3 linked regions of the Homo sapiens genome follow. The protein of the gene in region 2 interacts with the protein of the main gene of each other region in a biochemical or structural test. Each region holds a gene or a part of one and is shown on either strand. Other genes may lie near its edges.

Region 1 (4,076 bases), on a different chromosome or scaffold from region 2:
TGAATTTTTTAAAAAGGGATGGAGGCGGTAGGTATATATGCTTGTATGTGTACAGAATGACCCAGGAAGACCACCCAAAAAAACTGCTAATGGTGGTTGCATCAGGAGAGAAGAATGAGGGAGCAGGAGTTGGGGAGGGAGCAGGAGTTGGGGAGGGAGCAGGGAGGGATGGAAAGGGTGAGGGGAGATTTTCTTTTTAGTGTATACCCTTTTGCACCTTTTGAATTTTGCACTATATGCATATAATACCCATTCAGAAAGCAAATATAATAAAACCCCAATGGCCAGGTCTTTGTGGCTCTGTCTGTAATCCCTGTAATCCCAGCTACTCAGGAAGCTGCCTCCAAAAAGCTTAAAAAAAAAAAAAAAAATTAGTTGGGTGTGGTGGTGTGCACCTATAGTCCTAGCTACTCAGGAGGCCAAGTTGGGGGATCACCTGAGATCAACAGTTCAAGACCAGCCTTGGCAACATAGTGAGACTCCGTTTAAAAAAGAAAATCAAATATAAATAAATAAAACCATAATAGTTATCTCAATACAACAGAATACTATACAGAAATGACAATAGGCCAGGTGCAGTGGCTCATGTCTGTAATCCCAAGGATTTAAGAAGCTGAGGCAGGAGGAATGCTTGAGTCCAGGAGTTCAAGACCAGCCTAGACAACACAGTGAGACCCCCATCTCTGCAAAAAAAATACAAAAATTAGACTGGTGAACTGGCACATGCCTGTAGTCCCAACTACTGAGGAGGCTGAGGTGGGAGGATCGCTTGAGCCCGGGAGGTCGAGCCTGTAGTGAGCTGAGATGGTGCCACTGCACTCCAGCCTGGGCAACATAGTGAGACCCTGTCTCAAAAAAAAAAAAAAAAGACAATAGGAGTCGAGCACAGTGGCTCATGCCTGTAATCCCAGCACTTTGGGAGGCCAAGGCAGGTGGATCACTAGAGGTCAGGAGTTCGAGACCAGCCTGACCAACATGGTGAAAACCTGTCTCTACTAAATACAAAAAATTAGCCAGGCGTGGTGGTGCATGCCTGTAATCCCAGCTACTTGGGAGGCTGAGGCAAGAGAACCACTTGAACCTGGGAGGCGGAGGTTGCAGTGAGCTGAGATTGTGCCATTGCACTCCAGCCAGAACAACAAGACGAAACTCCGTCTCAGAAAAAAAAAAAATCACAATAAATCATCTACAGCTACACTGAACGACATAGATGAAATGAACAAACATAACAAGGGAAGCCAGATAAGAAAAGTTTATACCACACGATTCCATTTTATATGCAATTCAAAATCAGGCAAAATGAATCTATGCTGTTAACAATCAGGACAGTGGTTACCCTTGCAGGGGTACTGACAGAAAGAACCTGAGGGAACTGCTGGGGGCTAGGCATGTTCTGTGCTGCATCTGGGTGTGGAGTACACAGGGCTGCAGTTTGCAAAGAGTCACTGAGCTGTACTCTTACTTACACCTTCACTTCACTCTATGTATGTTACACATCAAAAAACAGTAAAAACAAATTTAAGACACCACAGTGGCGAACTGAGTGATTAGAAAACCAATAACAATCAAAAATGACCATAGGCCCTATTGCTGATGAACATTTCTTCTAAAAATGACACACCTCCAGTGACACACCAGAGTTATATCTGGGTCTTGTCCAAGCCACCCCTCCAGCCCAGGAGTAGTTAGCAAAGAGGTTGGCATTTCCCTCTGGGAGCAGGTGATGAACAGACAACAGAGCCTGCTGTGGCTACTGCAAACAACCAGGTGTGTGGGGCTGTCATAAGCAGATGGCTAAGCCCCATGTGGTAAGATCGAGATTTTGCATAACAATAATTAGAGGAGAAAATGCAGGGTAGTAGAAGAACCCACAGATGTGGCCAGGTGCAGTGGCTCATGCCTGTAATGCCAGCACTTTGGGAGGCCAAGACAGGAGGACTGCTTGAGCTCAGGAGTCCGAGACCAGGCTGGGCAACATAGTGAGACCCCATCTCTACGAAAAATTTTTAAAATTAGCTGGGCCTGGCGGCACACGCCTGTAGTCCCAGCTATCTGGGAGGCTGAGGTGGGAGGATTGCCTGAGCCCAGGAGGTTGAGGCTACAGTGAGCCATGACTTTGCAACTGCACTCCAACCTGGGCAAGAGAGTGAGACCCTGTCTCAAAACATAACATAACAACCCAGAGATAAGCCTACTGCCTTGGTGGCCAGAAATGTCTGCCTTTATCAGTTACGTCAAAAGAATCAAAATTAGCATTTGATGAATCCAGAGTAACCCCACAAATTAGTCATTGCCAGATGCAATCAGTCATTCCAAAGGGTCTCTGACGTGGAGTAAGTTAACAAAACAACTGCTGCAATGCTGATCTCCCACTCCTGTGTGTGGCCCCTGCAGTTGATTGTCAACATGGAGCCAGCAGGATCCTGTGAAGGCCTAAGGCAGATCCTGTCCCTCCTCTGCTCGGAGCCCTCCGGTGGCTCCTATCTCACACCTGGAGTAAAAGCTCAAGTCCTTTCAATGGCTTTCCAGGCCTTAAGTGGTTTTTTAGGGGTTCCCAGTCCCACCCTGTTACCTCATCTCCTACCTCTCTCCCCCTGGCTGACTCCACCCCAGCCATACTGGCCTCCTTGCTGTCACAAGCCAGCTTCAGAGTCTTTTCCCTAGATACATACATAGCTCATGTTGCTCAAATGTCCCCTTTTCAGGGAGGCCTTCCCGGACCCTACTATTTAAATAAAAATCCTTGCCACTGCTCCAGCTCCAGCTGGGGCACTCTCATTCCCCTTCATTAAGTTCCTCCATAGCACTCATCATCCAACATATGTTTCACTGACTCATTTGTCAGTCTTTCCCTACTAACGTGAAAGCTCCACAAGACTGAATTTCTTTTGTTTTTAAGAGACAGCATCTCATTCTGTTGCCCAGGCTGGAGCGCAATGGTGCGATCATAGCTCACTACAGCCTTGATCTTCCAGGCTCAAGTGATCCTCCCGCCTCAGCCTCTGGAGTAGCTGGGACCACAGGCATAGGCCACCACGCTTGGCAGATTTTTGTATTTTTAGTAGAGATGAAGTTTCCCTGTGTTGCCCAAGCTGGTCTCGAACTGCCAGGCCTTGGCCTCCCAAAGTGCTGGGATTATAGGCGTGAGCTTACTGCACCCCACTGAGAGTGAATATTTTTTGTCTTCTGCTGTGTACTGCTGTATTAAAACAGTGCTTGGCCTACAGAAGGCACTTAATAAATACTTGACTAAATAAATGAGTGAATGAACAAATAAATCCATCATCTACTCCCGAGTCTATAGGTTCTTTCTCTGCACTGACAACTTCCCCACATTCTGTCTTCAGCTCCACATGTGATCCCCAACTGCCTCCTGGATGCCACCCCTAGAATGTCCCAAAGTCACATCAAACCTGGACATCCCAACTGAAACACATCACCTCCCCAAGCTGCTCCCTCTGGGGTTTACCATGTTGGTGACCGCTGCAATACTCCCTCAGTCTCTCCCAGGCCAGAGACAGGTTCTGTCTCTTCTGCCTCCAGTCACTCTGTTTCCACAGCAACTGGGGTAACAGAATGAAATGTGATTTCCCTGGAGTCACTTGATCATAAGAGAGCCCAGTGGAATCATCACCCACTAAGTAATAAAAACACAAATCCCTCCCTCTACACAAACACCTACATGTTGACAGAGCACTTGTGCAGACATTATGTCACCGAATTTTCACAACTCCGGGCTTGGATGTCATTATTCCCAATGGACACATGAGAAAACAGGTTAGAGAAATGAAACAATTTTCTTGAGGTCACCGATTAAGAGGAAGAGCTGGGGGCTTGAATCTAGATCTCAAGACTAAAACTGTCAGCAATCTGTATCTATCACAGTTTAAAAGACTGAGGTCAGGTGCAGTGGCTCATGCCTGTAATCCCAACATTTTGGGAGGCCAAGGTGGGTGGATCACTTAAATTAGCATTTGGTGCTCATTTGCCTTGAACTCCTGAGGTCAGGAGTTCAAGACCAGCCTAGCCAACATGGCAAAACTCGGTCTCTATTATAAATACAAAAATTAGCCAGG
Region 2 (3,284 bases):
AAAATCTTTAAGCAAAAATTCATTTTTTAAACTACAGAGAAGTATAAAGAAAAAAAAAGGCTGGGTGCAGTGGCTCACGCCTGTAATCCCAGCACTTTGGGAGGCTGAGGCAGGTGGATCTCGAGGTCAGATTGAGACCATCCTGGCCCAACATGGTGAAACCCCATCTCTACTAAAAATACAAAAATTAGCTGGGTGTGGTGGCGCATGCCTGTAATCCCAGCTAATCTGGAGGCTGAGGCAGGAGAATAGCTTGAAGCCGGGAGGCGGAGGTTGCAGTGAGCCGAGATTGCACCACTGCACTCCAGCCTGGCAACAAAGCAAGACTCCACCTCAAAAAAAAAAAAAAAAAGACAAATGCCTAATTTCCAGTCATCTTATTGCCAGTTAACCCTATTGACATCAAGCAAAAAGTTTTGTCAGTACATGTCATTTTACGAAAGGAACAAAATGTGGCCGGGAGCAGTGGCTCATCCCTGTAATTCCAGCACTTTGGGAGGGCAAAGCAGGAACACTGCTTGAGGGCAAGAGTTTAAGACCAGCCTAGGCAACATTGTTAAGAGCCTATTTCTACCAAAACAAACAAACAAACAAAAAACCGAAAAGAAGAAATATCTTCCCATTTGTCTCCCCCAAGGAAACTATTATTTAGTTTCCTGCAATTTCCTTCTGGAAATTGCTGCATATATATAGCAGCATATATGTGTTGCATCTGAACAAATGGTCTTTCTAGAAATTCATTCAAAGGGCTATATCCTTTCTACTCTTTCTGCACTCTGCTTTTTTCTCTCATAAAACATCTACTTATATCCTTTCTCCTTCCTGCTCTGCCTCCGGAAGCCAAGCCTCCACCCAGCTCCCAGGCTTGGCTCATTTCCTGCTCTCCTCTTAGTGTCAGTAGAGAGGGCAGCTCCTACCCCCTGGGGCCTCACCTTGGTGCCCACTCCAGGCAGGATGCAGAGGGCCTTGTGGGCCTCCTCATATGAGGACTCTCGTAGCTGCTGCAGCCAGGCTAGCCCGCCCTGTTCTTCCAGGATGGCTCGGGCACTGGCACTCACGTAACGGGCACGATAGCCCAGGCCCAGCTTCCTGAGATGAGCCTCCACCTCTGGCCCTGCGGGGAGTGAGGAGGAGGGCAAGCATCAGGCATCTTCAAGTTCTTCCTGTCCTTAGGCTAGTAAGTGAGCTCTCTACCTCACAAGAGTGCTTTTCCTAAGTTCCCCTCCTACCTCCCCACCCTCTATGGGATAGTGGACACTTTTATGTGCAAGGGAAAGGGTTAGGCCTGGGTCCTGTCCCTCTACACATGTTTTCTGAGCACCTGCTATGAATTGGCCCCGGAGCCCAAGTCTAGTCCAGGGACTGAGGACTTGCTTCCCTTGAGGAGCTCCCCAACTGAGTTCCTTAACCTTTCCGAAAGAGTGTTCACACTCATGATCTAAAAAAATAACCACAATATAGCAACAGCTTCTATGATCAAGTGCTAGGCAACATGCTTCAGATATATTATCATGCTTACTTTTCCCAAGAACCCCACTGACAGTACTGCTGTTTTCCCATTTTACATGTGGAGAAAATGAGGGCTTAGAAGAGGTTAACTTACTTAAGAAAGGACATGGGGGAGATAAGATCTTGCACCTAGGTCTGGGACACCAAGACCTGTGCTTTTTCTTTTTTTGACACAGGGTCTTGCTCTGTCACCCAGGCTGGAATGCAGTGGCACAATCTCAGTTCACTACAGCCTTGACCTCCTAAGGCTCAAGCGATCCTCCCACCTCAGCCTCCTGAGTAGCTGAGACTACAGGCTTGTGTCACCATGCCTGGCTAATTTTGTTTATTTTTTGTAGAGATGAGGTCTCACTATGTTGCCCAGGCTGGTCTCAAACTCCTGGGCTCAAGCCATCCTCCCACCTTGGGCTCCCAAAAGTGCTGAAATTACCAGCATGAGCTACCCCACCTGGCTAACGCCGTGCTCTTAACCCATTACACTACACTGCCTCATGATTGCTTTATTCACTCCCAAAGCCCTTCTAGATAGAAACTGTTATTCCCATTCTACAAACAAGCTAAGAGAAGCCGGAAGAGGTGAATGACTTTCTTGAGGCCTTATGACTAACTAAGCCAGGAGCTGAGACTCAAGAACAGGTTTCTTTTTTTTTTTGTTGAGACAGAGTCTCACTCTGTCGCCCAGGCTGGAGTGCAGTGGCACGATCTCGGCTCACTGCAAGCTTCGCCTCCCGGGTTCACGCCATTCTCCTGCCTCAGCCTCCCAAGTAGCTGGGACTACAGGCGCCCACCACCACACCCGGCTAATTTTTTTTGTATTTTTAGTAGAGACGGGGTTTCACCGTATTAGGCAGGATGGTCTTGATCTCCTGACCTCGTGATCCACCCGCCTCGGCCTCCCAAAATGCTGGGATTACGGGTGTGAGCCACCACGCCCGGCCAGGTTTTTTTTTTTTTTTTGAGACGGAGTCTCGCCCTGTCGCCCTGTCGCCCAGGCTGGAGTGCAATGGCATGATCTCAGCTCACTGCAACCTCTGCTTCCCAGGTTCAAATGATTCTCCCGCCTCAGCCTCCTGAGTAGCTGGGATTACAGGTACCTGCCACCACGCCCAGCTAATTTTTAGCAGAGAGCGGGTTTCACCAGGTTGGCCAGTCTGGTCTCAAACTCCCGACCTCAGGTGATCCACCTGCCTCAGCCTCCCAAAGTGTTGGGATTACAGGTGTGAGCCACCGTGCCTGACCCAGGTTTCTTTTTGTTTGTTTTGAGATGGAGTCTCGCTCTGTAACCCAGGCTGGAGTGCTGTGGTCTGATCTTGGTTCACTGGAGCCTCCTGCTCCCGGGTTCAAGCAATTCTCCTGCCTCACCCTCCGGAGTAGCTGGGACAGGTGCCTGCCATCACGCCTGACTAATTTTCGTATTTTTAGTAGAGATGGGGTTTCACCATGTTGGCCAGGCTGGTCTTGAACTCCTGACCTCAGATGATCTGCCTGCCTCGACCTCCCAAAGTGTTGGGATTACAGGCGTGAGCCACCACGCCCGGCCAGGAATGGGTTTCTAAGCACCAAAAACATTCTCCTGTTTTGAGGCAGTCTGTCTCTTTGCTATGCAGTTCCCAAGCACTTGTCCTAGCTTGGTTCTCACATCTGCCAATCGATACACTTGCCTCTGTAAAACATTTGCCTTACAGGGCTACTGTGAAGAACACACGTGTTCTTAGATACAAAACTATCCCATTCACTACAATGATACCAGCTTGAATTTTTTTTTTTTTTTTTTT
Region 3 (3,531 bases), 4.4 Mb from region 2:
TGCTAGCAGTTTGCTTTATTTTTTACAAGCACGTGAGTGAGAACTTTCCCAAACCTACTCTTCTGTTTCTCAGAACCTACTGTTTCATTTAAATAATGCCTCCTTGTAGCTGACATATGCCTGAAGAAGTTATTTCTGCAGAGACATGGCAATGCCATCATCTCAAAACCCCAGAAAGACAAGCGTGGTGGTGCATACCCATGGTCCCAGCTACTCAGGAGGCTGAGAGGATTGCTTGAGGCTGCAGTCAGCTGGGATCACACCACTAGCTGGGATCACACCACTGCACCCCAGCCTGGGCAAGAGTGGAACCCTCCCTGTCTCAAAAAATAATTTAAAAAAAAAAATAACAGAAAACAAGTTGCCTCTATAGGAGGGCCGAGCTCTGGTGAGGAAGTGTGAGACCAGTTTCCATAGCAACCCCAGTCTGTTTCTCAACAAGAGGTTCCAGCCAGCCTCTTGCCACATATGAGTCATAACTCAAGTGTTTTGTTTGTTTCCCTTGGATAAAAGTGACTCCGATTTTTAATGGCTCCTCTCAAAGATTAACATCTCTTCACTAAATACAGAAGAATTCCATATGTAATGAATTTCCAGCCTCCATGAAAACAAAATGGACTCTTTCATGCTGTCTCAACATATGAATACATTGCTCTGTCACCTGGGTGTTATTACCGACTTAAATCTGAAAGAAGCTGGGCACGGCAGTGGTGTGTGGGTGCCTGCAGTCCTGAGGAGCTGGGACTGTTTCCCGAACAATGCCTTTCCACCACACACGGTGGTTGTGAGGGCCAGCTGAGGCAAAGCCCTCAGGAAGACCACTCAAGCCCAGGAGTCCAGCCTGCGCAAGACAGTAAGACCCCTTAAAAAAAAAAAAATCTGAAAGAAAATATAGAGCCAAATCTTTAGATAAATGCTTTATTATTTTCTCAAAATGTTATAAAAGTCATTTCTCCTTAGTACAGAGAGCTTTATACATTTTATCTAGTAATGAATACAATCTAGTTTAACACTCATCTATTTTACTAACATTTCCTTAATTTTCAATTCGTATTTTTCCTTTTCTTTCCTGATTTTAGCTTTTTTTAGGCTTCTGTCACCACAAAATGTTACTTGGAAAACTAGATCCCAGCAGATGACCTGTACTTCTCTGCTCTCTCCCCTACTGCAAAGAGGCAGTGAGGGCAGCATTAGTAAGCCTGACTCAGGGGAAGGTAAGTGGCCTGCAGAGAAATGGTCCTAGGTCCGCAACCGAGGCGAGTGAACTTGTCGGACAGATGAAGACTCTAACTGGAAGAAACGATCAGCGCATTCACGGATGCACCACCATCCAGAAATCTCCCGGTGGCTTCCATACAAAAACTGATGTTTCTAAAGATGGAAAGAACAGGTCTAGGAGGCAGAAGAGTATCTCCTAGCAAAGTGTTCTGTAGCTCAAAGGGTGAGTGGGCTTTGGTAGCAAAAAGCTTTGAAGGCTTCACCCTGGGTGAATCTGACAAGGGCTGGAGCCAGACGGGACCTGCAGCACCTCCTCAGCTTGGCCTCGTCTCCCCTGACCCCGCCTCCGTGCATGCTGCCTCAGTTTGCCTTCTCAGCAGAGAAGCCCCCACCACCAGGGGCTGGGCATGCCCAGGGCAGGTGTGGGGCCTGTAGTGGGGCAGCAGCAACTGGTGGGTGCCCCTCTAGTGGGCGCTCAGCTCACAGCTGCTCAAATGGGAACAGGTGGGAAGCTGCTGCTTTCTTTTCCCTTTTGGTCTTCTTGGGCCCACCCTTCAGCTTCTGCTTTTCTTCATCTTCTCGGTTTTGAGGCCAGGAGGCAGCCAGTATCCTGGCCGCTTCTGCTTGAGAGCTGGTCCCCTCCTCTTCATCAGAAGAGAGTCCACCTCCTGCATCTGTGTGGGGAGCTGCTGCCTCACTCTGGACAGGTGGCAGTGGTGGGAGGACACAGGCGAGGGTTAGTAATCAGATACCAGGAAGCCCCATGAAGAGGCAGCAAGTTCCCAGCCTGCCCTAAGCTGTGTAACTCTGGGAGGACAAGGGCATGGGACAGGGCAGGGAGAGAGCCCAGACCCTTCTTACTGAGCCGTCCCAGCCTGGGGTGCATCCAAGCAGACACTGGAGCACCTGCTACGAGCTGAGTGCAGGGGAACACAAGGATGATGGCTGGGCAGGAAGCTGCCCTCTAGGAGCACACTGCCTCATCTGGGGATGCCTGTGATTCGTGCCTTGCATTTGCTACCTCATTTCTGGACCAAAGCACATGATGTCTTGAACGGGCAAGATGCACAGTTCAGCCCTCGGAGCCCTAAGATCTGAGGCGGCACTCCCTGCCAGCTGGGATGGCTAGGGAGGGTTTGGATGGAGAAGGCGGCAAGGAGCTGGTCAGAACATAAAGTCAGATGAAGGGCTTTTCTCCACCAGAGGGACTGGAATGAGGAGCGTGACAAAAAAATGTTGAAAGGCAAACAGGCAGCACAGAGGGTTGGAGAGAGGGAACAAAACATGCCAGAGCAGTTTCTGCTGTGTCTGACACAGCACTGACTATACCATGTAACTGGGCCTAGGGTCCATCTGCCCCAGGGAGGGGCCCCCTTGAGGGCTGCATGTCAAATTCACACCTGTGTCCAAGCCTGGCCTGGCACATGGCAGGTGCTGTGAGAGAGGTACTGAGCGGGCCACTGCAGGCCTGCAGCATGGTCACAGGCACTGGGAACACTGGAAGGCGGAAGGGTGCACCAAATGCAGGACACTTGGCCCTCCCTATGTGTTCAGCGCCAAATCAGACCCATGGCATTGCTCATGTGGACAGTAGAAACGGGGACACTGGGACAGGGCTTGGGGCAGAAGAGCCAGCTGAGGCCTCACTCCAGGGACACCTTTCCCAACAAGGTAAAAACAAGCGGCCTTAGAGACAGAAGACTGAGGTGTCCTAACACAAAGCTATCCCTGACTTGAGGCTGGGGCAGAATCTGGGCCAGGCCTTTCTGAGCTGCATCTCCAAGAAACTGACCCTGAGCTTGTCTTCTCTGCAAAGAACCTGCACTGACCTTGGGCCCGTAGCGACGCTTCAGCCTCTCCCTGATGAGCAGACCTTTGGCCAGCAACTTCCAGTTCCCTAGAGCCCGCTTCTCCTTTTTCTGCAGGCAAAAATGAAGTGGGAGAAAAGTGTTAAGCACTGACATTTTCAGGAAAAATATTAAGATGGAAACTGTGAATGTAAAGACAGATATATACACCACTTTAGAATATAGCCTCTCCTTCACACCAAGTCTCACTTCCAAAAAATTGATCTGATTTACAAAGTGATATACTATACCTGAAAGCCACAAAAACAGATAACTTTTTAATCGTTACTGACTCCAAAATCTTTAGTGGGTGAGGTCTTCCAGAACCTGGACACAGGCAATTCAAGACAGAGGCAGGTGTGGGCAGCAGGGGCAGTAGACCCCAGAGCCCGGACCCAGGCTCCTCAGGGACAGTGATAGTCTGCGGGGTGGGCAGGAGCCTGCTGTATTCAGTGCTCGCTCCCTC

Evidence for each region. Proteins that work in one complex are often made in the same cells at the same time.
Region 1: the proteins of OGG1 (region 2) and XRCC1 form a complex in vitro, tested with the Homo sapiens proteins (one study listed by BioGRID).
Region 3: the proteins of OGG1 (region 2) and XPC form a complex in vitro, tested with the Homo sapiens proteins (one study listed by IntAct).

The regions. Positions count from the first base shown.
Region 1 is NC_000019.10:43,568,624-43,572,699, forward strand, and holds part of XRCC1 (DNA repair protein XRCC1), read right to left. Parts: intron 1-4,076. UniProt on the Homo sapiens protein: Scaffold protein involved in DNA single-strand break repair by mediating the assembly of DNA break repair protein complexes. Negatively regulates ADP-ribosyltransferase activity of PARP1 during base-excision repair in order to prevent excessive PARP1 activity.
Region 2 is NC_000003.12:9,752,534-9,755,817, reverse strand, and holds part of OGG1 (N-glycosylase/DNA lyase), read right to left. Parts: intron 1,115-3,284; coding exon 933-1,114; intron 1-932. UniProt on the Homo sapiens protein: DNA repair enzyme that incises DNA at 8-oxoG residues. Excises 7,8-dihydro-8-oxoguanine and 2,6-diamino-4-hydroxy-5-N-methylformamidopyrimidine (FAPY) from damaged DNA. Has a beta-lyase activity that nicks DNA 3' to the lesion.
Region 3 is NC_000003.12:14,144,243-14,147,773, forward strand, and holds the end of XPC (DNA repair protein complementing XP-C cells), read right to left. Parts: exon of another isoform or gene 3,331-3,531; intron 3,138-3,330; coding exon 3,048-3,137; intron 1,918-3,047; coding exon 1,699-1,917; 3' UTR 905-1,698; downstream 1-904. UniProt on the Homo sapiens protein: Involved in global genome nucleotide excision repair (GG-NER) by acting as damage sensing and DNA-binding factor component of the XPC complex. Has only a low DNA repair activity by itself which is stimulated by RAD23B and RAD23A.